Linked DNA regions of Homo sapiens. The protein of the gene in region 6 purifies or fractionates together with the protein of the main gene of each other region. This does not show direct contact. Each region holds a gene or a part of one and is shown on either strand. Other genes may lie near its edges.

Region 1 (3,500 bases), on a different chromosome or scaffold from region 6:
ATAGTCTATATTACTGCTATTTTTAATTAGTCTTTTGCAAGCCTCATTTTAAAGGAGACTGAGTTTGAGTTGTTTTCTCTGTATGCGTTTAGTGTGCCAGGACAGCCGTATTTGGAGGAGCCCTACCAAAATGTCTGTTTCCAAGCTTTTCTGACTATTTTACAGTCTCCAAAATCATCTGATATGGATGATATCACATTTTGCATGGTAAGTGGACTATCATTGACGTAGTGAATGTTGCGGATGTGTCTAGAAGCAGATTGGAAAAGTGTTACTAACGAGTTTAATTTGCACCATTAGCTTCGTCTAGAGAAATACACATATATGAAATGTTTGTAACCTAAAAAGACTAAAATCATACCATTTCGGTTTAAATTATAAGAAGCTTTTTATTTGTTATATTTTGCAATTCTAGATTTTTAGAGGAAACTATTCTTTTTCCTTCTGAGTATAAAAGCAATAGTTGCAGGCTAGTGACTATCTTTAAGATGAAAGTAAAGAGAGATTTCACCAAATATATCTGCAATATTTTATTTCTTTTTTAAAAATACGATGCAAACGACAGTTTATTAACATCTTTTAAATTTAGAGTAACACATTTCAAATGTTATATAGCTGAGATAAAGTTCCTTCTAGTCTCCTGCTCGGATATAGCCACTGAAGACAATTTGTGCTGTGTGCCCTCAGATTTTTTTTTCTATATGTAAATGAGCATAATTACAGCTTTAAGTGGGATCATATTTAACATGCTGTTTTGTAACTTTCTTGTTTTGTTAAAACTTAATATCTCTGGGACATCTATTCGGTTCCTGTTAATATACCTCATAGTTTCTAACTGCTATGGCTGGAAGACCTTGGACAAGTTAGTTAACTTCTTGGAGCCTCTGTGTTCCTCCCTGAAAAGGGACTGATATAACCACATTGTGGGGTTCTTATGAGAAGTATATGAAATAAAGCATTCAAAGGGCCTACTGTTATTGTTGTTGAGTTTTACATTTAGCAGAGGGTTAGCTTCTTTTATAATCATTATCATAATCATCAAAATTGAAGTTTTTAAAATTTTCCCACTATTTCAAACAAGGCTACAGTTCACATCATCCCAATGTCGGAAGTGTTTCTTAAGGAGAGAGTTCTAGAAATGAGATTACTGAGTCAAGAAATCAATCTTGGTCAGAATTGCCCTCCAGAAACCAAGTTTCTATAATTTATCAGCAGTTCCCACATACATCCCCTTGCTTTTAAGAGGGCTGGGTTTGCCATATTACAGAGCTTTCCCAATTCTGATCTGTGCTATCTTTTTTATCCCTTGTCACATTTTTCTTGCTAAACATCTTCTCTCTTTTTTCTTGCTCACCATTTGTACATAGTGGTTTATAAACATGTACAATAAGACCACTTCATTATTCTTTTCTTCTAGAAAAGAATTCATGGTAGTTTATTAGGTCTCCTTAGATCTTCATTTCTGCTTTGTGTGTGTATATGTGTGTCTATAATAAAGTTTTTTTTCATCATCTAGAGACTGTCTCTCTTCCATCCTAAGTGGTGCTAGTAAGTTGATTCCTGGACAACCAGATTTTATTCTGCCTTCTAACTGGGTCTCCCTTTTCCCCCTAGTTATTGCAAAATGCATTAAAAGGTATACAGTCACTTCTAAATGGTGGGAGAATGAAACTAACACAGACTGATGAACTTGGAGCACTTTTAGCTGTGCTAAAGGTAAGGCAAGTCTTCATATGATCATTGTCTTTCCTGTTTCAACCCATGGTACAAGGACCACTTTACATCCTTATTCTAAGGCTAACTTTGAGGTATTAAAAGTTCTTACATATATTTTGAGAGAGTAGACAAAAATGTTCATATTCAAAGACACTTAATATTAAGAACAGAAAATAAATCTCCATTTAATAAATGCATCAAAATTTTAAAATTATTTATGAATCTTAGGAAGGGAATCGGTAGGGGAGTATGACCTATAGAATATTTAATTATAGACTATGTTGTACTTGTTTGTACAAGAAGAGCCAGTGCTTCTCCTTGGCTTTCTCCTCCAAGTAGTAGACAGGCCAACCAAGACGTGTGTCAATGGGCAGCTTCCGAGCGTGCCAGTCAGTCGGAAAGTCAGGCCAGCATCTCTGGGGACCCAGCTTCTTCAGCCAGCAAAGTAAGAAGTAATTCTTTCCTTGTGGCATTCTCTTGCTCCCACATCAAATAGAGAGATAGCTATAGGTGGAGATAGGTAAATAAAAATGATAAATTTGTTTAAAAAATTATAGACAGATAAAGTAATTGGATAAATTTTATAAATAAATAAGGAAACTAAAACCAGACCTGATTTGATCTGACCAAACCAAATCCAGCTGGAGGCCAGATAAACTTCAGCTCTTCTTTAAGCCCTATGCCTTCAAGGTATCTATTTTCTATCTCATTTATATTTCCTTAGTAGGCTTTTGAACATTATCTATGAGTGTTGTGATCCAGACATGGTAAATAGTTCTATTTTATGATTAATGGTTTATGATTAATGGTTTTTTTGGTTTCGTGTGTGTGTGTGTGTCCTTATTCATCATTATTAGAAATTCATGTTTCACGGACTCCCTGGACTAAACATAGAGATGCCCACGGTGTTATACCCAACTCCGCTTCCTCAGTATGATGGGCGAACACCTATCAAACCACAGCAATCAGAATCCAGTGCTTCTCGACCAACTTTGGTACATTTATGTTTATTTAGATTTAAGTTGTGGCTTATTTTTAATAGATTGTTGTGTGTGTTTTCTATGATTTGCATCACTACTACCCTAAAAGCCTACCTTGAATTTTATTTCAGTTTAGGGTTGTTAGCATAGTAAATTTAAACTCATCTGATGCTCAAAATACCAATTAAAGCATCTTATACTTCTTAGAGGTGTAGTCAGTATAACAGCTATAAAAATGAGCATTCACTTTATACCCCAAACCAAGCATTCTCATCCCCATGATGCTCAAGACCAGGAGTCAACAAACGTTCTCTAAACTTTCTCTACTAGGCTAGTAAATACTTCAGGTCTCTGTCATAACTACCAACTCTATTGTAACAGTGCAAAAGCAGCCATAGACACTATGTAAATGAATGGGCATGACTGTGTTTCACTAAAATTTTATTTACAGAAGCAGGCTGTGTGCTGGGCTGGATTTGGCTTTTGGGCCATAATTTGCCAACCCCACTCTAGACTGTTAGAAGCCCACCTACCAGTCAGCGCACCATCTCCACACCTTACATTCACCTGATTTCCCAGCCTTTCCAGAAGCTGCCATCTCCCTCGTGCTTTGGTTGGAGAACCTGGAGCATACAGATGTATGGCCAAGGATTCACTTCCAGAAATGTCATACCTGATCAAAGTGCTTCTTATTAGAAATTATTTCACTCATTCACTCACTCAGCATTTACCCAACATCTGCTGTGTTCCAGACGCTGTGCTAAGCACTAAGTATATAGACTCTGGCTGCTTTTAGGAGTTTGA
Region 2 (3,500 bases), on a different chromosome or scaffold from region 6:
GGTGACCCACCCGCCTCGGCCTCCCAAAGTGCTGGGATTACAAGCATGAGCCACTGTGCCCGGCTGTCTGACTGTTCTATTTTAACTTAAAGAAGTATTCTGAGACAGCATATTTAATACTTGCAAATTTCAACAAGGTTGTCACAAACCTGGGAACTAGACGTCAGGCTCACACCACTGTCTGCGCTGATCTGGGACTTTTTCTCCTCTGTCTCACCAAGGTCAAAGACAGGTTTGATTACTTCAGGCCCTGAGTAGGGGAAGACTTCTGTTACTCCGTGCACAAAGGCTAGGGGCAGGCTGGTAAAGGGGGTGGGACGGCAGCACAGGCTGTTCCCAGACCCGTTCAGCCCATCCTAGTCACCTTTCCAAGGACTACCCCCCACTCAGGACCCACTGGAAAAAGAGGACCCCAGATGCCTTAAGAACCAAGTAGGACAAATCAGACCTGGTCTCAATGGGTTCTCCAGCCATCTTCTCAACCTGAGAAAATTCTGAGCAAATCATCTTAAAACAGAGAAGCTCCACAAGGCTGGGCATGGTGGCTCACGACTGTAATCCCAGCACTTTGGGAGGCTGAGGCAGGTAGATCACCTGAAGTCAGGAGTTTGAGACCAGCCTGGCCAACATGATGAAACCCTGTCTCTACCAAAAAATACAAAAATTAGCCGGGCGTGGTGATGCACACCTGTAATCTCAGCTACTCGGGAGGTTGAGGCACGACAATTGCTTGAGCCCTGGAGGCAGAGGTTGCAGTGAGGCAAGATCGTACCACTGCACTCCAGCCTGAGCAGCAGAGCAAGACTCCATCTCAAAAAAAAAAAAAAAGAAAAGCTCCACGAACAAATGTCTAAACCACATTCCATGGCACTCAAGAGTCTGAGCTTCACTGGTACCTGAAACCATTTAATGGTCCCCAGGTCCCTTAATGCTTCCCAAACAAATGTGTCTAAAGGAGGTAGAAAAGGTTGGGCCCGATGAGATAAGAAACACCAGCTGTTTTGGTGGGCACTGCCTACCTCCATCCTACAACTTCTATGTTTGAGATGAAAACCACCCCCCTTGTCCCCCACCCACCCACAATGGTATGGCAGAAAGACAGAATGACAGAAAGCAAGAAAGCGTGCCTAGGCAAGCCACCAGAGAGTGGGGCAGCTACAGACTCAACATGGAGGGACAGCAACCATCTCTGCCAACTGTGCCCACAGGCCTTCTAACAGGTGTGGGAGATATCAGCCAATGGGGGGCACTAAAATAGGCAAACATTCTCCCCACCAACTCTGAAGCAACAGAGAACCAAGTTCTGGGGAGTTGTATTCAGTAGACACCTGGTTATAGCCTGATTGACACGAGGGGAGGGGGAAAGAAGCGGCCTACACACACCTAGGAGTCACATGCTACCTACCTGCTGCCATTCCAAACACGCTCTAAGAGCAAATTTGGGGTGGGGCTGACAAAGGGAGCCTGCCCCAACTGGGCCTGGGGAGTTGGCAGGTATGGAGGACTTGGGAACAGGAAAGGGCATTTGTTCCTTACTCTGTTTTTCCAAAGCTTTTTGCTTTTTCACTTCCTGGTGCTTGTTCCACAATTCTACCCCAGATGCAATGCAAGCAGGAGAGAAAGACAGAAAGTCAGAGGCTGGTCAGACAGACGAAATGGAAACCCACCCACCCAAGTCGATTCAGTCTCAGGCACTGGATTACCAACCAAGAGATACAAAGATATCTTCATGGGGAGAAGGGGCAGAAAACAAGAGATCTAACCCCTCCACCCAAACTCATGAACAGATTCCAAATTTCTAATTCCAATCCCAATGTGGCAGTAAAAACCCTGCAGAATGTTAGAGCTGGAAGTGCCCTTAACAAAGCTCCTTCATTTTTGCATGAGGAACTGGTCCTAAAGAGGCTGGAGCACTTGATCAAGATCATGTAACTTAGGATCCATTTAAACTCCCACCATGCCACACACTCTCTCTACCAAATGAGCTGGGGAAGGGCAATTTTTCAGATTCCAGATGAGACAGATGAACACCTCAAGCAGCCAGAGTTTCAGAAGGAAGAACACCAATCTTTGCTTGATTCACTGGACTGAACAAAGGCCAATTCATGCAGGCAGTTAGCATCCCTCCTCATTGCTCCTCAAGAAACCAACTCACCCCTACCTGCCCTACCCACCAGTGATCTGGAAAAATGCCTCCAGTTGAGGTGACAGAGAACATAAAATGGTCAAGACCAGCATCTTCATAGGGAAAAGCAGACAGAATGGCAACCACAGCAATTCTTTTCCTGGAAGGAACTTCAGAGTGTACTTAGTATGATTTCCTCATTTCCCAGATGAAGAGACAGATACCCTGAGAGGTGAAGTTATTTGCCCAAAGTTGCATTCCTAGTTGGAGGCTGATATGGGACTAAAACTCCAGATCTCCAGACTAGCAGGTCAGTACATTTTCTACAACATCACATGAGGCAGGAGAAAGCCAGGAGTTGACTGCTACTAGAATAATATTCTGCTGGCTAGGGAAGTGTAGCTCCCCTAAAAAGGAATCTGGTTCCATGTCACCATTTATGGGAGCATATGGCAACTGCTAATGGCCATGGCAATGAGATGTCAGCTGGAAGCAGAGTGCCTAGGGACCTAGAACCAGAAAAAGAAAGATCCAACCTCGATGACTCAAGGTCAAGCAGGGAGTGAGCCAAACAGAGGTGATGCCTAGAAAGCTCACTAAGGCACTGCCTTTGTGGGAACGGAGAAACACCAAATGTAAACGAGATTATAATCAAGTCCAGTGAAGAAGCATTTAAAGAACTGACTTGGAAACCTATACCTCAAAGATCCAGAACCCAGGGAAATGGGGTTGCCAGGCATGCCCCAGAGGAGCACATTCCAGAGGAGTATAATGGTTGGATGGGAGGACACTGGCTTCAGAGACACAAATGTCATAATTTTATAGCCCAAAAATGCATCTATAAACTTCCTGAGCACTTCCAGGAATTCTCTCCACTATGTGAAGAAATGCAGACGTAAATAAAAGGAGGGGCCAGGAGTACAGCTCACACCCCCTGCAGTAAGCCTCATTGGGCCCTCTAAACAAAACTTACCATTCTTCATCTAAGATACGGGGTGGGGGGTGGCTGTGGATGAAGCATAAAGACTAGAGAAGTACAAAGAAACACCACCAGAAATGGACACAGGCCCCCTTCCCTCTCTAAGAAGCAAAGCATGGGGCAGAGAAAGGCAGGATTCTGGATGAATTGAGGAGAAAGGGATATTTAAGAAGCCAGGACCCCTCCACCACACCAAACACACTGATACGTACCAATAGATGCTATAAAATTTTCTTCCTTTAAACTTCTGGTGTCCAGTTCCTTAGGACCCTTTCCTGTGGCACTTGGTGCCCGAGGTCCCAGTTGTGGAACTCTCAGTTGTGCCATAGCCTTTGGGTCCCCCCGCCCAGCTAGGCCAGGATCCTTGCCAACTGGGGTATTTACACTTTCTGTTGG
Region 3 (3,500 bases), on a different chromosome or scaffold from region 6:
GCCTGGGCAACAGAGCAAGACTCCATCTCAAAAAAAAAAAAAAAAAAAAAAAAAGTTGAAATCCCAGAGCTAAAGGGTAACTACTATTCCCACGTTAGCACATCCTTTGGGGCTTTCCATTCTTGGCATTTTCACCTAACCCCTTCCCAGTATCTAGGTATTCTGAGTGCCCTTTTATGGCAAATTATGCACCTGCTTCATCATTTCCAATGGCTTCATACTATCTCTGCCTTATCGATTGATAAGATATTAACCAATTTCCTACTGTTGGACATTCATGTAATTTCCAATTTCACTACCATGCTGCAATGAATACTCTAGAAAAGTATTTCTGCACATTCAAACAAAATAGTTCATTCAGGTGAAGATACTATTTTGAAAATCAATATTTACTCCAATACAGACCCTTCTTAAAATTTGATTAATTACTTTCGGCCAGGCACTGTGGCTCACACTTGTAATACTACCACTCTGGGAGGCTGAGGCAGGTGGATTACTTGAGGCCAGGAGTTCGAGACCAGCCTGGCCAACAGGGTGAAACCCAATCTCTACTAAAAAAAAAAAATACAAAAATTAGCCAGGTGTAGTGGCACATGCCTGTAATGCCTGTAATTCCAGCTACTGGGGAGGCTGAGGCAGGAGAATAGCTTGAATGCAGGAGGCAGAGGTTGCAGTGAGCCAAGATTGTGTCACTGCACTCCAGCCTGGGTGACAGAGCAAGACTGTCTTAAAAAAAAAAATCTGATTAATCACCTTCAACAATGAAGTCCTTGTGTTTCCCTCATTCACAACTAATCAGTTAATCCTGTGTTTTCATTACTCACACTGTCTCTCTGGATCAGGGTTCCCCTAAGCCAATCATTTGAGTATTACCCTTATATTCATATCGAGATATTACCTGAATTACTATTTAAATATTTTTCTTCAAGGCAACTCACTTATTTATCCTAAAATACCTACTTCCATCATCTCTTAAACAATTCTACCAATGAAATAACATGTTCGATGGGCTAGTTATAATTAACAATGTCAAGGGCCATAGACACATCCTCACCCATGCCTACCAATGACACAGGCCTCACTCTGGAAAACATCGCTCTATAATCTGATGAGTTCCTCAAGATTCAGACCTGGGGCCTTACTTATCTTTCCATCCCTGGCATCAGGGCTCAACAAGTTCCTAAACAGTGTTTACTAAGCAAAGGAATTATTCAATTGAGATTTCAACGAAAATGTCTTCCAAGGTTTCTAAGTATTTGAAAAAAAAAAGTCTTTCTCATTAGACTGGGAGCTCCTTGGAGAAAAGCTGTTTGTACATTCTTGCAACTAGAGCGTAGCAGGCACCTGGCATAAAATAGGTGGGTCAATAAAAATGATAGAGCACCAGCATCTCCGCCTGGGAAAGGCAACGACAGGAAGGAAAAACAGGCCTGGACATATAGAATGTTTATGCAGCTTCCCTACTCCACTAGAGGCAAATGTTGGAAATCTAGAAGCAAACCTAGTACCTAACGCACACTCTGAAAGTAACGAATGAAGTAAAATCCCCATGAGGGATTATTTTATTTTATTTATTTACCTATTGATTTTTGGGGGACAGTTTCACTCTGTCACCCAGGCTGGGAGTGCAGTGGTGCGATTTCAGTTCACTGCAACCTCTGCCTCCTGGATTCAAGCAATTGTCATGCCTCAGCCTCCTGAGTAGTTGGGACTACAGGTCCCAGCTGTATTTTTTTGTATTTTTAGTAGAGATGGGCTTTCACTATGTTGGCCAGGCTGGTCTTCAACTCCTGACCTCAAGTGATCCACCTGCCTTGGCCTCCCAAAGTGCTGGGATTACAGGCGTGAGCCACGCACCTGGCCTATTTTTATTTTTAATCAAGTTGTGGGCCTAGCTTAATACTGGTTTGTGTAATTTGCTCCAAGCACTAGAATATATCTAAAGAAAATAGGCTATAATAAGGAATATTTTTAAAAAGATAGAAGTGGCCAGGTGTGACAGCTCATGCCTGTAATCCTAGCACTTTAGGAGGCCGAGATGGGTGGACCACTTGAGCTCAGGAGTTGGAGACCAGCCTGGCCAACAGGTCAAAACCCTGTCTCTACCAAGAATACACATTAAAAAATTAGCTGGGTGTGGTGATGTGCGCCTGTAGTCCCGATACTCGAGAGGCTGACGTGGGAGGATGGCTTAAGACCAGGAGGCAGAGGTTGCAGTGGGCTGAGATCACACCACTGCCCTCCAGCCTGGGTGACAAAGCCAAGACTCAGTCTCAATAATTAATTAATTAATTAATTAATAAAAATAAAAATGATAGACGTAAAAACTTTCTAACCCATGTCTATTCATACAAAATACTCCTACCTGTCATAATAACCACATGCCTAAAAAGTATAACATTTAAAGATACTGAGAAACTTACCAGCTACGTAGTAAAATAAAGAAATATCTGAAATCTATTTGTGTTCGATAACGTAACTCCAAATCATTGAAAAAGAGCTTCTGGGTAAATCCTTTCATCAGAAAGCCAGTAAGTTCAAATACCATACAGGTCAACCACCTTTGCTTTGTCCCTAAGTAAACTGCACTCATTACTTTGGCCAACTGTCATCCAAGTCTATGCCACTGATCAAAGGATGGTGTGTTCGTCCAAAAAAGCAAATGCCCTAGTAACAGCGAATCAGTGACCTCTTTCAAGGTGGCAGGCCACACTCACTTTTTTTTTTTTTTTTAAAGAGAGAAGGTCTTCCTCTGTTACCCAGGCTGGAGTCCTGTCTCTACAAAAACAAAAACAAATTAGTCAGGCATGGTGGTGTACACCTGTAGTCCCAGCTACTTAGGAGGATCACCTGAACCCAAGGAGGTCAAGGCTGCAGTGAGGTGAGATGACACTACTGTACTTCAGCCTGGGTGAGACCCCGTCTCAAAAAAAAAAAAAAAAAAAAAAAAAAATATATATATATATATGTATAGAAAAAATATATATACATATATAGAAATATATATATAAAGATACATATATAGAAATATATATATATATATGTTGGGCGTGGCGGCTCACACCTGTAATCCCAGCACTCTGGGAGGCTGAGGTGGGCAGATTACTTGAGGTAAGGAGTTCTAGAGACCAGCCTGACCAACGTGCTGAAACCCTGTCTCCACTAAAAATACAAAAATTAGCTGGGTGTGGTGGCGGGTGCCTGTAATCCCAGGTACTCAGGAGGCTGAGGCAGGAGAATCCCTTGAATCTGGGAGGCGGAGGTTACAGTGAGCCGATCTCGCATAACTGCACTCCAGCCTGAGCGACAGAGCAAGACTCTGTATCAAAAAAAAAAAAAAAAAGGTTTGTGATGTACTGGAGGCCTTGGTGAATGTTTTTTCATTGTAGATGGCATTCAACCTACTATGAGCCCCAACACTGGGAACTCCCATTGATCCCACCATCAGTTCATCCCCCCCGTTGATCCCACCATCAGTTCCTCCCCGCCATTGATCCCAT
Region 4 (4,028 bases), on a different chromosome or scaffold from region 6:
AGCCTCTGGTAACCACCTTTCTATTCTGTTTCTAGGAGATCAACTTTCTTAGATTTCCCCAAAAAGATTAGATTTTAGATCACTACTTGTCTTTCTATGTCTAGCTTATTTCATTTAGCATAATGTCCTCCAGATCCATCCATTTTATCACAAATGATAGGGTTTCCTTCTTTTTTAAGGCTGAATAGTATTCCATTGTATCTTATATACATTTTCTTTATCCATTCATCCACTGATAAACACCTGGGTTGCTTCCATATCTTGGCTATTGTGAATACTGCTGCAATGAACATGGGACTGCACATACCTCTTAGACAATTTCAATTCCTTTGGATACATGCCCAGAAGTGGAATTGGTGGATTGGTGTACAATAATTTGACATATATTTAAAACATTTCTAGTTTTTCGCTATTACAAATAATGCTGCAATTAATATCATTGTGTATTTCTTTAAGTACTGGTCTTTACATTTCTATCAGATAAACCCCCATAAGTAGAATTTTCAGGCCAGAGAATGTCATTTTAATAAATATTGCTACATTACGTTCCCAAAAAGTAATACTAACTTACAGACCCAATAGTTTGAGAGTAACTTTTCCCCATGCCCTATTAGTACTAGAAATCATATTCACTTTTGTCCATCTGATGGCAGGGGTGGGAGGATGCTATACATTATTAGGGACAGAGAACATCTTTTCATCTGTTCACTGTCCATCTATATTTCACCCTTTTGTGAAATGCCTGTTCCAATCCTTTGTCCTTGATTCTGTTGGTTTGTCTTCTTATTTGTACTAACTTGAGATGTCTTTTATCAAAGTTTTAAAATTTTTTCGGCAATCAAATCTGCCAATTTCTTCTCTTATGGATTATGAATTCTTAAGTTTTGCTTAGGCCTCTTCTGCTATCCAAGGATTATTAAAATAATCTATGTTTTCCTCTAATTATTTTATTACAATTTTGTTGTTTTATATTTAGATCTTTAATCAATCTGGAATTTATTCATGTGGTGTAATGACTTAGTAGTTGTTCCAACACCATTTATTGAATTATCCATTTTTAAATGCTTCCTCCTAGAGTAACAGATCACTACAAATAGCTAAGACGGCAGACAGACAAAATGCCTAGAAATTTTTAAACGTCACTACTTAAAGCAGTATCCAAAGTTTATTAAAAGACATTCATCATTTTCTCATTAAAAGAAATCACATATTAGGACACATGCACACAGTGAACCACTCAACATACACTGTGAAGTTTTTTTTTTCAACATAGTAGCAAACTAAATTAAATCGCTGATCTAACTATATAAGCCTGATTTTGTTTCAACATAAATGGTAAAAGCAGAAATAATCATTGCTTGAAATCTCAAGATTAGTCATTGATTTGGGTCGCAAATATTTATTGAGCACCAACTGACTATGGATACAATGGGGAACAAAACAAGTTTGATCCCTACTTTCAGGAAGCTTGCAATCTAGTAGGAGCTTCTCTCCTCTAAAAAATAATGTTTTTAAGTGAAGAAGGAAAAAAAAGAAATGTACGTTCACACAAACGCAAAGCAGTGAAAAACATTCCGGCAAATTTTATGACACATTCTGTACTTCCCATTTCCAAAATACTATCTTATTACTTCAAATGTACCTATTTATTGTGGTGACTGTCTTCATTACTGTACTCATGTTGAAAACACTGCTAGGGAGTTATGACTAATTCCATTAGCCTCTATCTCAAAGTACCTATGTTTAGTCTCCTCACTTTCTCAACAATATTTAATTTCTTTCATTACAATAAATAAAAACCTCAATAAGAGAAATTACAAACCTATATACATCAGTCATGTTCAGTCCACCGACTCAAAAGTATTTCTTTAAAGTACATGCAGATTTAAAAATTTTCCATGAATCCGCGCGGGCGTGGTGGCGGGCGCCTGTAATCCCAACTACTCGGGAGGCTAAGGCAGGAGAATCGCTTGAACCCGGGAAGCGGAGGTTGCAGTGAGCCCAGGTTGTGCCACTGCACTCCAGCCTCGGTGACAAAAGAGAAACTCCGTCTCAACAAATAAATAAATAAATAACTCCTAGAGTCTTAGCAAATGGCACTACTGTGTCGCTGGGAGACGAAGCAAGAAGTCTGGTGTTCCCTCAACAATAGGTAACAACTGATTAGTGACAGTCACCTTAAACTTTTTGAGTACCAAGACCCAGAAACTGCCACCACTCTTAGACTGAAGCGTTCAGATGCTTGCCCCTGTGGTAACGCCCCCCACCTCAATCCCAATCCAAGGCCTCCCCCTCATACTCCAGCACCTCCCAACTGAATGGGGAGGTGGGACAAAGTACCGCCCAAGGGAAGGAGACGGGACTCCTGCTCCTGCGGGGTGACCTTGGCCAAGTGTCTCCTTCTCAGTTTTCCCATATGTGAGATAAGGTTGGTAGTCCGTGCCCGCCTCCACCATCCGGGCCGGGTTCAGCGTATAATGCCGCAAGGCTGGAGGAAAGCTCCAGCCCTGTACCCCACGCGGCTCCCCGAGACCGCGCCGCCACCTTCTGGGTCTGCGGCCAGCCGCGCTACCTGCAATCTGGGAGACGAAGGCTTCCGCCACTAGAGACATGTCGGCTGGGAGGCCCGGCGCCCGGGTGCCTGCCCCCCACGGGCCTCAGCGTCCTCCACCGCAAACCCGGAGGCTCTCGGCAGTTAACGAGCCTAGCCCCGCCAACGTTCAGACTCGCAAAGCCCACTCCAACAGCAGCGGCGGCTGCAGTGAGGCCCCCAAGGTTACCGCCAGGCCTGGCTAGGGACTTCCGGCGCAGCCGACAACGGCACTCGAGCGCTTCCGCCGGCCCCGCCCCCGCGCCGTCCTACGGGGCGCCGGCGCGGCTAGCTCCGTCCAGCCAATTCCAGGCTCTGCGCTGGGGGCCCGCAGGTGGAAGCGAAGTACCCGACTCGTCTCCCACCCAGGGGACTGGCAGGGGAATCTGGGAGATTTTTAGCGTCCTTTCTGTAAGCCAGAATTTTGTAACCGAGTAACATTTGTAAACGCCCACTGGATACCAGGCACTTATATACCTATATCTACACACACATATATACATATATACACACACACATACACACATATATAATATATACACGTATATATGTACACATGTACATATATACACATATATACATATATATACACATATATTCTATTTGACTTCGTCTTCTCAACAACCCATTAAAGTAATAATATTATCGCCATTTTACGGATAAGAATATAGGCTTAAGGAGTTTAAACTGCCTGCCCAGGCAGTCCTCCAAGGACCAGATTCAAGGCTGCATGAATTCCCTCTATTCCATTATATTGCTGGGTTGATTAGTCCGTGGATAGACATTAGTGTTTTTTGTTGTTGTTGTTTATTCAAACATGCTTGGCAGAAAGGAGGCTTGAGCAGCGCCTAAGCCAGAAGGTAATTTGTCCTTCAACTCCATACACCCGAAATGATGCTCAGCTTGGAGAATAAGATACTTTAGTTTCACACACTTCTCACCTTTCGGGGGTGAACGGGGCAGGAAGAGGAGAAACTAAATTCCCTGAGTAACTTTGTCTTAACCTAATAGCTTCTTAAATTACACAATTAAAGAAAAATCATATGCATTACAGATTGGTGGTATTACAAGTGGGACAGGCTTCAGAGCTGGTAACCCAAAGCCCCCTTCACTGATGAGAAACAAGTTCAGAGAGGTGAGGTAACTCATTTTAAATCACACAGTAAATCAAAAAGTCAGACAGCTTACTAGGTTTTTGCAGAGGAAACCTGTATTCTAAGAATTACTGTCCATGACATTTAGAAAGCTATATTTCCATTCTTTATATCCGTAGATCTCTATTACTGTTCATTCTGCCTCCTTAACTAGCGTGGTTGGTTTCCTAGAGCTGCCAGATTACCACAAACTGGTTGGCTAAACAACAGAAATTCATTCTCACAATTCTGGAGGCTAGAAGTCTGAAATCAAGGTGTCAGCAGGGCCATGCTGTCTTGCAAGG
Region 5 (3,240 bases), on a different chromosome or scaffold from region 6:
AAGCTCTGGCAGCTGGATGTTCTGATCTAGAACTTCGAATGTGGAGCCAGGACACAAAGAATCCAGCTCAGTGTAGAGTTTGTTCTTGTGGCGGCAGTGGTGGTGGCATCAAGGTACAGCAGTTTCATTAGTGGTGTCCAGGATCTAGGGACCAGCTCTGGGGACCATGGCATCTAAACCAAGCTGTTCTCCAGGTGTGATTGGGTCATGGCCCCAGACCTCTGGCTTTCTTGGATCCAACCCATTTTCAAGCCCGATTCTCCGAAAGAGCCTGTGAATTCCCTAACAGGCTTCCACTCATTTCCTTTTCTGTTTAAGTAAGCTGCTGTTGGATGCTGTTGTTGCAACCAAGAATCTGACTAGCCCTTCCCATCTGAGCTCTTTCCTTTGCCTCTCCTAGTGTTGGATCAGGGAGGTGTTAGTTCCAACTTTAGTTAGCTCTTTTATGATCATCCTTGCAAAGAAGCAGCTTTGAGAAGTACTGAACGTAACACAGGTCATCCACAACATCCCCTTTTTATTGATATTAATCACAGTTATGAGGTCTTGTCCATCAGAAAGCACAATTTGCATTATGTAGAACTACATACAAAGACATAAAAATAAAACATACATACACCAACCACCACACCAGTTAATCTCAACCAATCAAACCTCTGAATGTGTCTTCAATTTTGATCATCAGTGCTTCGGAAGAACGTACATAGACCCAGCCCAAGGTTGGCCTTTGGGGTCTGATAGCATTCACAGAGCAGGAGATTCACCCTTGGAAGCAATTGAATGTGTAAACTCTGAGAGCAGACACTGACAATGCAATGCCTGCATACCTGACTCCTGGGCTGCCTTCCTTCTCAGCAGAGCCCACTGAAAGTCTCACGTGTGCCTTTAACCAATGAGGATGGCAGGCCTTATCTGTGTTTGAAGTGGACAGGTCATTGCTACCCCTGTTGGAGAAGCTATGTAAGAAGGAGTAGGCTGGCTTCTGGTCTAGTTCGACTCATTCTTTATAGGGACATTTCAGAATGATGAGTTGGCTAAAATTTACTTTAAAGGGGAAATGTAAAATTACCTCTTCTTTTCCTATCCCCTTCTTCCTTTCCCATCCTGAGCCCTCTGGCAAGGCCTGTTGCAGCTCAAGAGTTTTTGTCAGATTATAAGTTACCAAATGGTCAACAGGGAAGGACCCACAGCAGATTCCAAAACTCTTTCATTCACTTGAGTTAACTGAAATGGCTCCTTCTTTGAGTAATTGAAGAGTTTGAGTTCTAGCAGTTTGCTGGTGTCTCCAAGTCTCTTAGAAACATGATGGCTATAAACTTATCAAAATAAATGCCTAAGAAATTTGGAAAGCGCGACAAATGGCCTTGCTCCTGGAATCCATTGACAGCAGAGGCCTCCGAACAAACCCACACTCTGTCTGTCTCTTCTTTCCACAGGGCTCACTGTGAGTTCACAGTTGTCCTCATCCCCTTTCCTTCAATAATGTCAATCTTTGCCTTTAAAAAAAAAAAAAAAAAAAGCCAGACTAGCCAATTTCCTTCCCTTTTTCTGTGTCCCCCTCCCATGTAGTATCTCCTTAGGGGGAGGTAAAGGAAGACATGCTCCTCTCTGGGCTGGCTCGGCCTTGGAAGGTAGCTTGCTATCTTTATGATGCTCCAGTTCCAACATTCTAGATGGGGAGAGGCTCAGCAGTGATGGAGCAGGAGGGGCGGATGAGAGGTGTGCTGGCCACTCTGCCCTGAGTCACTAGGCCACCAAAATGCTTAGGAGACGTCTTTTGGTAGCTCGCTTCTATAGGTGACCTTGAGGAGTTGGGAGGCAGATAGAAGGTCCCGAAGTGGAGATTTCCCTGATCTGAAGTTCCTTGATAATCCCACTGAAGAGAGAGTCCATTCAGTGGCCAAAACAAAGAATCTGTATTTCCATGACACCTTAAAATTCCCCATTAAATCAAAAATCTCCCTCAAAGCAAAGTAAAAATGGTTCTATTATAATCAGAGTCAATCAGGATAATGAGATGAAGAAGAGAGGAAGGAAAAAAGTTTTAATGTGAAGAAAGAAGCTTGTTGTCCCATAGAAGCCAACCACTGCTGTTTCTTCGTATGGCCTTTCCCGGGGTCCGAAGCGTCTCAGCCCTAGCCCAGGCCAACGTCCAGTGACATCATCACTACAAATCCCAGGATGGAGGCCCAGGATGCCAGTTTCCCATTACCACTGGAAGAGAAGGACAGGAAGAAAAGTAAGACCTTAATGATCCCTGAGGCCACGGCTAGGCTGAAGGCATCCTCTGCAATGTCCAATTCCAAGAGAAAGCACACTACCATTAATAATGGTAACATTTACTGGGGCTTACTATGTGCCAGGCAAACTAATGAACCATGGAACCCCAAACAACAACCTCATGAGGTCAGTATCATAATTATCCTCATTTTACTGGTGGGGAAACTGAGGCAAAGAGAAGTTACTTGCCCAAGGTCACCTATGATCGTTCTGTGGTCCATGTGTGAGTAATGAAGAGGGGTGATTATTTCTTAAAGATATTACTTAATCTGGCCTTTTAAACTAGCCTCAGAGTTATTCTTCTATAAAAACCAAAATAGGCTGGGAGCAGTGGCTCAAGCCTGTAATCCCAGCACTTTGAGAGGCCGAGGCAGGCAGATCACCTGAGGTCAGGAGTTTGAGACCAGCCTGGCTAACATGGCGAAACCCCGTCTCTACTATAAATACAAAAATTAGCTGGGCGTAGTGGTGGTTGCCTGTAGTCCCAGCTACTTGGGAGGCTGAGGCATGAGAATCACTTGAACCTGGGGGGCGGAGGTTGCAGTGAGCCGAGATCACACCACTGCACTCCAGCCTGGGTGACAGAGCGAGACTCTGCCATTAAAAAAAAAAAAAAAAAGAAAAACAAAACAAAACAAAACAACAACAAAATGGAACAAAGCAAACCCTTACTCCCACCTTCTGACACCTGGCCTATAGCTAGCCAGTGAAGACATGCATGTATCACCTTCACTGACATTTTAGAGCTCACCTCTCCCTTCATTCCAGCCCGAGAATCGAGAGACAGGATGAGAGAGAATATACAAAAACGATAGTCTACTGCATCAAGGGACGGGGGGCAGGTGTGTATGCCACTGCCTGGTGTCACCTCATTTCTTGACCCACATGCCCTTAGCTTCTTTTCTTTTAGTTTCAGAGAGCACAGTTGAGGAGGCAGTGGGGATGATCTTGGGAAGGGGC
Region 6 (3,973 bases):
AAAGTACATCTGTGATCAAATAGGGAATATATAGCCTTCATATTTCTCAAACAGACAAAAATATCAGAAATATTTTTTAAATAGAACTAAAATTACCAGAGATTTAAGTAGACTTAAATACAAATACAATGATGGACAAGTTACTTAAAAAGACAATGAAATGAGAAATTTTTCAATAAGGATTAATTAGACAAATTTTAGCACATTCATACAATGTGAAACAAATAGACATAACTTTTGCAGAACAATATTTACTTACATGAGAAAATATTTACAATGTATTAGGTGAAAAGTCATAGCAAAATACTCTGGGACTATCCAAGATTTGTGGAAATAATGTGCACAAGGAAGGAATGAGGGGAAAAAAAAGGTCTGGAAAACTAAATATACTAAAACGTAATTAGTTGTGTTCACTGAGTGGTAGGATTACAGGTGAATTCCATTTTTTATTTTACCTGTTTTTCCCCAATTATCTATTATAAATCTAAATTATTTATTCATTAAAAAGTTACCCTTTTAAGGCTGGGCTCGGTGGCTCACACCTGTAATCCCAGCACTTTGGGAGGCCGAGGTAGGTGGATCACCTTAGGTTGGGAGTTCAAGACCAGCCTGACCAACATGGAGAAACCCCATCTCTACTAAAAATGCAAAATTAGCTGGGTGTGGTGGCCCGTGCCTGTAATCCCAGCTACTCCGGAGGCTGAGGCAGGAGAATCACTTGGATCCGGGAGGCGGAGGTTGTGGTGAGCCGAGATCACGCCATTGCACTCCAGCCTGAGCAACAAGAGTGAAACTCTGTCTCAAAAAAATAAAATTACCCTTTTAAAAGCAAAAAGGAGAGAACAAAATGTGATGAGACACAGTTAAAAATTTTTCCTTCAATAAAACTGAAAAAAATTATTTTTCATCAAAGTAGAAAGTATGAACAAAAGGTTAAGTAATGTCCACGACTGAAGACAAATTTGTTTCCAATCAATAATAGTTCTTAAATACATTTTAAGTGCTGCAAAAATAGTTAGATGAAAATCAGAGAAAGACCAGTACCTTTACAAGCAGCATTGCTAGATACGTATTTAAAATTTTTAAACTACTTCTATTTTGCCGCAAATTGGGAAGAAAATTATTTGGAATTTCTGCAGCTACAAAAAAAAGGTGCGCGTGTGTGTGTGTGTGTTTGTGTGTGCGTGCACGCGCGCATGATGTCGGTGGGGAACGCAGACAGATAAAACGAAAGGCCACGGTCAGAGGACTAATCTTTCTCCCCGTTCTCAACAGAACAGTCCCGTTATCTTCCGAAGTTTAAAATAAATGGCTTCTCCCTACTTCATCAGTGTATATATATATTTAAAAGCTCTATATCATTTGGTATAAAGATCTAGAAAAATAAAGGCAATAAAGATCTAGGAAAACGAAGATGTCTTATTTCTGATACTTGAGGGATAACTTCCTTCCACCAGCATTTTACAAGAAAAATAAAGCGAGTTAGTTAGACCTCCGTCCTTCCCTCCCACCACCACCAACAGAGGCCTAATCAACGTGAAAAAAAAATCGGCCCATGGAATTCTCCGCGCACATCTTTCTCTCCTGCTGGAATCCACCCTCTGGGGTAAAATTATCTCGGAAGGCTCAGAAAGTGAGGCTAAGTGAAGAGAGCATTAAGAACCCTTCACGATATTGTCTAAGAGCCGTCCCCCAGTCGTGAGTGGAAGAGAGAGGGGTGACGGATGGGGACTAGGGAAAAGCGGCTGGGGCAGAACCGCCCTGGAGCGCAAGCCTGGTCCCAGAAGAAAAACAATCTTCCTTGCTCACACCTATTAAGCACCTACTATGTTCCCAGCACTATACGAAGCGCTTTCCTATATGTCCGTTTTTATTTAATAAGCCTCCAGTTCACACTGCAACTCCCCCTTTAGTTAATTGCTGAGTATTCTGCTTTTTCTCGCGTATCCTCAGAACCAAAGGTGTCGATATTTGGACTACAGAGCCAAGCAGTTGCAGGACGACGTGCAACCTCAAAGGAAAGTGTCCCGAAGGCCGCTTCCTTTTTGGGGGTTGTGGATCTCAGAGCCAGGCGCTCGCGGGGTTCAGGCTGCTGAGACCCTGCCAAGGGTTAGGTTTATTTACCCCACGAACATTCGCCCAGCGTCCACTGAGCGGGCCCTGCCTCACTGCCTCCCAGCGCTTGCCGGGCCCGCTCGCTGATCGGCGTCCACCTTCCCACCGTTCCTCTGCTTCCTCAGGAGATTGGAGAGCGAATGGTGCCTCTAACAATAAAAGTGGTAAGCTGCGACTTTGTCAGCCAGGCACGTTTTTAAGTGCTTTTAACCATACATTAACTCATTAAAAAGGAAAACCATCATCGCCCTCATTTTATAGATGAGGAAACAGGTTAAGCCATTTGTCCAAGATCAGGATGCGAACCCAGATAATCTGGACTCTGAGGCACCCTGGAAAAGTTCCCTACTTCCAAAGTCTGCAGGAGCTTCGGGACGTCTTCCCGGGAGTCTCCCCCAGTCTCCTCGACCTCCAATCCAGGCTTCTGCTGCTCTGGGTCGGGTTTGGCCAACTGGGTGCCGGCCGGTTCCCTGGCGCGGGCGAAATCTGCACCCGAGGCGCCCGTCCTCCTCTCCGGGCTAGACCTCCTTACTCACCGTCCTTTCCGAGCGGCGCGGGGTTGGGGGGCGCCCTCAGCGGCAGCGCCAGAGTCTTGGAGACCGCCCTGCGGAGATACATCGCGCCCGCTGTCCGCCGCGCAGCAGCCTCGGTACCCAGGCGCAGGCTGCCCTTCCACAGAGAGGCTGAGAGCCTGGCAGCGCCCCGCCCGGAGGAGGCACGTCGACCTTCATCCAGCCCCGCCTCCGCGGCCCCCGGGAGGTGGGGAGACCTTTGTAGTCCTCACCATCCTCCCCTAACCCATCTCCAGCTCTGTTGCTATCCCTGAGGTCTCTAGAGCTGACCGCGGCATCTCAGAAAAGGGATGGGGAACCTACAAGTCGCCGTCGCCTGCCTGGCTCATTCTGTACCACTGAATGTAACTCCTCACAGCAAGCTGGAAATGTTTTGGGAATTGGACGAGATTAAGACAAGGACACAGTTTATCACGCTGGATGTAATCTGAAACCATTTTATCTCCTGCATTCCGTTAGCTTTCCTAGGAGAGGGAAGGATAGCTGGAAGTTTCTTAAAAATGAGAAGAGCGAAGGGGTAGCCTCAGCCTTCCATTAGCGCACTGGGTGATGCTCAGAATCGTAAGAAAATCTGCAGACAATGGTTGAATTTCTAGACAGCTCACTGTTAAAACGACTTTAAAATATCAAAAACACTGTATATTCCTCTATGGGATGTGAAATTAATATTTCCACATCAGCGGCCGGGCACAGTGGCTCACGTTTATAATCCCAGCACTTTGGGAGGCCGAGGCAGGCGGATCACTTGAGGTCAGGAGTTGGAGAGCAGCCTGGGCAACATGGTGAAACCCCGTTTCTACTAAAAATACAAAAAATTAGCCGGGAGTGGTGGCGCGGGCCTGTAATCCCAGCTACTCGGGACGCTAAGGCAGGAGAATCGCTTGAACCCGGGAGGCGGAGGTCGCAGTGAGCCGAGATCATGCCACTACATTCAAGCCTGGGTGACAGAGCAAGACCCTGTCTCAAAAGCAAAACAAAACAAAACAAAAACCCCAAAAACAAAACAAAACAAACAAAACAAAAAAACACATCAACTAAAAATACTAAATTATTAGTTTTCCGTCTCATCGTGGCTACAAGAACTTGTCATGGTTTGAATATGGAAACCAATAATTTATTACGTTTATAACATTGTCTAAATGATTACTCTTTGGAAGACACCATTTCCTACTATAATAATCCCTTATGTGTGTTTGGCACTTGAAAGATTATAAAGCACTTTCACATCTATTATCTCTTTTAATTTTCACTGCAACCCTCTGAGGGAGGTGGCAATTATTCCCTTT
Region 7 (3,500 bases), on a different chromosome or scaffold from region 6:
TTTCCCTAAAATATCCCTCTGAGCCCAGTTCTGGTCACTGAAAGTCACCCATAAGAATATTCCTTCAAACAGAATAAAAGCTATTTGAAGACGGCTATGCATGTTTCTTTGAGCCTTCTTTTTTCTATGTTAAACATGTCTCATTCTTTCAACTTTATCTTGACTTTCAATATGACATGATTGAAGAACCTGCCTCCATTCTGGCCACCAGGGACTTAATTTGTTACCATTTAAAATGTAGCTCCCCAAACTAGACATATTTCAAATGTGGTTTAACATACACATAGTATGGCAGAACGATTTTCTCTTACTTGAAAGTACACTTCTGTTATTACAGCTAGTTTTAATCATCATATACCCCACCATAATTTATACTAAGTATGCAGTGGATTTTCTGAACCTATGTAGGACTTTAAATCCAACTATATTGGTTTTACAATATTAGACTCACTAATATTTCCAAGTGGTGCATCCTTTTGATTATAGATTGTTATCTGATGTATTAGTTCCATCATCTGCAATAACAATGGCTACTATTTATTGAGAATCTACACTAGATATCCTTTCTGACTGCTTACATATATAATCTTACATCACAACCATGTAGTAAAATAGGTATAGAAGCTCAGAGAGATAATCTGCCTAAGGTAACCAGTTAACAGGAGGCAGGGCCAAGAACTCTCACCCATGAGTCTTACTGACTCCAGTGATAAGCTGTGCTTTAGCAGAAAAGGACTAAGGAAAGAAACCTTGTGGCAAGACACTGAAGACATCAATGAAAAAAAAAAATCAAAACTTCACACATCCCCTAGTATGCTGCAGAATTTATCTAGGCACCAAAAATTCCCTCCAGTGGTGATCTCATGGATACTAAAGTAAACGCATTTTGCTGCTCCTTTAATACTTTCAACTTAGCAGTCACAGGAAGCCTGTGACTCAAAGATACAACAAATTGTGTAAGTTCTTTACCTTATCAAGAGTAAACAGATCAAGAAGCTGATCAGTCCCCATGCTCTGCAAACTAGAATTCTCTTGGCTAATAACAGTATTCGCTATGTTCATCTTGAATTTCTGCAACCCCATTATTTTTTCTTCCAATGTTCCTCTGGTTATCAATCGGTATACGTTAACCACACGTTTCTGGATAAGAAAAACAGTTAAGCAACCGTAACACATATTATGCTTTGAGGTTCCAACGAGTCAGAGGGCTTGTAGACTTGTACTATTTTATACTACCTAATTAGGGTTGGATTTTTATTTTGTCTGGCCACATGAGCTCAAAATGTGTGCAGCAATCACAGAATATTAGGGATGAACAGTGATCCAGGTTTTCCTAAGTGCTAGCACCTCATTTAATGCATGAGGAAGTGATACCACAGAAGAGTTAAGTGATCTGTCCAAGGTCATAACACATGTATGTTAACACCAGAGCAAGAACTAAACCAAGGTTTCCTATCTTTCTGGGGGAGTATATTTTCATGCACAGGTTAACATCTGTGAGGTAAAATTGACTTTTACCTGCCCAATGCGATGGGCCCGGTCCATGGCTTGTAGATCTCGCATAGGATTCCAGTCATGCTCCACAAATACTACTGTGTCAGCGCCTGTCAAATTAAGTCCCAGGCCACCAACGTGAGTGGTAAGTAACAGAACGTCTATAGATGGATCATTATTAAACCTAAAAGTAGATAACAAAAATAAAATTAGTCCATTCTTAAGTCCTATAACAGAAACTGTTAATAAAAATTAAAGAGCACAAATGAAAATGCTGCTTTAAAAATCCACAATAGGGATACTTACATGATCATCTGAGAAAAATATCCTCTCAATATGTATAACGTTTTTAGTAAAAGAGGGCATTCCAAAGCTATTCAGGAATTTCATAAATACAAAATAAGGCAAACTGCATTGAATTTAGTAACATCAGGTAAGGACTAACTTGCAAAAATATAATTAAATGCTAATTATAATTAAGATAAACCCAACTATGAACCTTTAAAGTATGGGGACAGAGAAGTGTGAGAACAGGCTAGACTTTCATTCAGGGACGACAGAAGGTGAGAGTGTTAGGGTTGCTACTACTGTACTAGTCCTAGAAGACACTGACAAAGGATATCTAGTAACTTCTAGGAAAAAGAAAAAACTAACATTAAAAATAGCAGCTACCAAGCTACGATTTATTATCCTTACTACAAGTCAAGCAATAGTCTTTGTACTTTATATGCATTATTTTATTTAATTGTTACAATAGCTCTATAAGGGTATTATTACCAATATCCCTATTTTAGAGAGACTGAGGCTGTGTGAATGATAAACAGGCTCAAGAGAACACTGCTTAAATAGCAGAGCCAGGAGTCAAACCTGAGCCTGTCGGCTTCCAAAGTCCCTCCCCGGGTCTCTAACTTTATTGTGCCTAATGATCTCTTAGGGATGCTTGTTTTTTTTTTTTTTTTTTTTTTGAGACAGAGTCTTGCTCTGTTGCTCAGGCTGAAGTGCAGTGGCCCAATCCAATCTCTGCTCACTGCAACTCTGCCTCTCGGGTTCAAGTCATTTTCCTGCCTCAGCCTCCAGAGTAGCTGGGATTACAGGCATGTGCCACCACATCCAGCTAATTTTTATATTTTTAGTAGAGACAGGGTTTCACCATGTTGGCCAGGCTGGTCTTGAACTCCTGACCTCAAGTAATCCACCCACCTTGGCCTCCCAAAGTGCTGGGATTACAGGCATGAGTCACCGCGCTCAGCTGGGATGCTTGTTAAAAATGGCTACTCTTGAAGTCAGCAGCTTTGGGACTAAGCAGAACCTAGGAATCTGCATTTTTTTTTTAAAAAAAAAAGCAACCACTGAGATTTTAAAAGTAGAGGCTGCAGACCACATGTGAACACTGCACTCACCAGTTCTGCTTCCTAGCTGGGCCAGATTCCAACTTGTTCTCAGTGCACAAACAGGGATTAGGATGGAGATTTTAGCTAAGCCACTTGTTTGGTTCCTCTCACCCTAATTCTCCCAAAAAGGTAAGGGGGAAAGTAGTTATCCTTACTGTTGGTTGATGCCTTAAATTTCTTTCATGCTCTTCAGAGTGCTTTTCTATTACAGTCACACCCTTTTCATATGCTAAGCAAATAATCTATTCGATTATATTTATGTAGTTCTATAGTTAAAAAGGGGTTTATTTGGGGTGAATTACACAATTAAAAAAATGCATTTGCAGATATTTAGCCAATGAAAATATTTCATGGGGCAAACTTCTATGTAAGTAATAATATATTTATTTATGAATAAGAGTCTTAGAAGCCACTTACCGGGAAACAATGGAATGCCTCTGACCAGGAGGTATGCTGCCATCTAATCTCAAATAAGTGACAGAGGGCAAGTGAGGTTTGAGGAGATCATGCTCTACTATATCAAGCATGCTTTTCAGCTGACAGAATATCAGTATCCTGTGCTGGGCCACAACAGACTCTGTGCCACTCTCGGAAGTGCTGCCATTTCCCAAACCG

What was found.
Region 1: the proteins of MGARP (region 6) and HEATR6 purify together in Homo sapiens (co-immunoprecipitation; 2 studies listed by BioGRID and IntAct, with this or other methods). This does not show direct contact.
Region 2: the proteins of MGARP (region 6) and MADD purify together in Homo sapiens (affinity purification with mass spectrometry; one large-scale study listed by BioGRID and IntAct). This does not show direct contact.
Region 3: the proteins of MGARP (region 6) and SLC25A33 purify together in Homo sapiens (affinity purification with mass spectrometry; one large-scale study listed by BioGRID and IntAct). This does not show direct contact.
Region 4: the proteins of MGARP (region 6) and MTX2 purify together in Homo sapiens (affinity purification with mass spectrometry; one large-scale study listed by BioGRID and IntAct). This does not show direct contact.
Region 5: the proteins of MGARP (region 6) and SLC39A11 purify together in Homo sapiens (affinity purification with mass spectrometry; one large-scale study listed by BioGRID and IntAct). This does not show direct contact.
Region 7: the proteins of MGARP (region 6) and BTAF1 purify together in Homo sapiens (affinity purification with mass spectrometry; one large-scale study listed by BioGRID and IntAct). This does not show direct contact.

The regions. Positions count from the first base shown.
Region 1 is NC_000017.11:60,068,922-60,072,421, reverse strand, and holds part of HEATR6 (HEAT repeat-containing protein 6), read left to right. Parts: intron 1-92; coding exon 93-207; intron 208-1,614; coding exon 1,615-1,716; intron 1,717-2,573; coding exon 2,574-2,711; intron 2,712-3,500. UniProt on the Homo sapiens protein: Amplification-dependent oncogene.
Region 2 is NC_000011.10:47,290,633-47,294,132, reverse strand, and holds part of MADD (MAP kinase-activating death domain protein), read right to left. Parts: coding exon 3,317-3,500; intron 1,591-3,316; coding exon 1,537-1,590; intron 644-1,536; exon of another isoform or gene 251-643; coding exon 150-250; intron 1-149. UniProt on the Homo sapiens protein: Guanyl-nucleotide exchange factor that regulates small GTPases of the Rab family. Converts GDP-bound inactive form of RAB27A and RAB27B to the GTP-bound active forms.
Region 3 is NC_000001.11:9,549,465-9,552,964, reverse strand, and holds part of SLC25A33 (solute carrier family 25 member 33), read right to left. Parts: intron 1-3,500. UniProt on the Homo sapiens protein: Mitochondrial transporter that imports/exports pyrimidine nucleotides into and from mitochondria. Selectively transports uridine, thymidine, guanosine, cytosine and inosine (deoxy)nucleoside di- and triphosphates by an antiport mechanism.
Region 4 is NC_000002.12:176,268,214-176,272,241, reverse strand, and holds the start of MTX2 (metaxin-2), read right to left. Parts: upstream 2,801-4,028; 5' UTR 2,613-2,800; coding exon 2,573-2,612; intron 2,029-2,572; exon of another isoform or gene 1,833-2,028; coding exon of another isoform or gene 1,823-1,832; intron 1-1,822. UniProt on the Homo sapiens protein: Involved in transport of proteins into the mitochondrion.
Region 5 is NC_000017.11:72,645,449-72,648,688, forward strand, and holds the end of SLC39A11 (zinc transporter ZIP11), read right to left. Parts: intron 2,215-3,240; coding exon 2,136-2,214; 3' UTR 501-2,135; downstream 1-500. UniProt on the Homo sapiens protein: Zinc importer that regulates cytosolic zinc concentrations either via zinc influx from the extracellular compartment or efflux from intracellular organelles such as Golgi apparatus. May transport copper ions as well.
Region 6 is NC_000004.12:139,277,426-139,281,398, forward strand, and holds the start of MGARP (protein MGARP), read right to left. Parts: upstream 2,801-3,973; 5' UTR 2,734-2,800; coding exon 2,652-2,733; intron 1-2,651. UniProt on the Homo sapiens protein: Plays a role in the trafficking of mitochondria along microtubules. Regulates the kinesin-mediated axonal transport of mitochondria to nerve terminals along microtubules during hypoxia.
Region 7 is NC_000010.11:92,024,770-92,028,269, reverse strand, and holds part of BTAF1 (TATA-binding protein-associated factor 172), read right to left. Parts: coding exon 3,303-3,500; intron 1,679-3,302; coding exon 1,519-1,678; intron 1,141-1,518; coding exon 970-1,140; intron 1-969. UniProt on the Homo sapiens protein: Regulates transcription in association with TATA binding protein (TBP). Removes TBP from the TATA box in an ATP-dependent manner.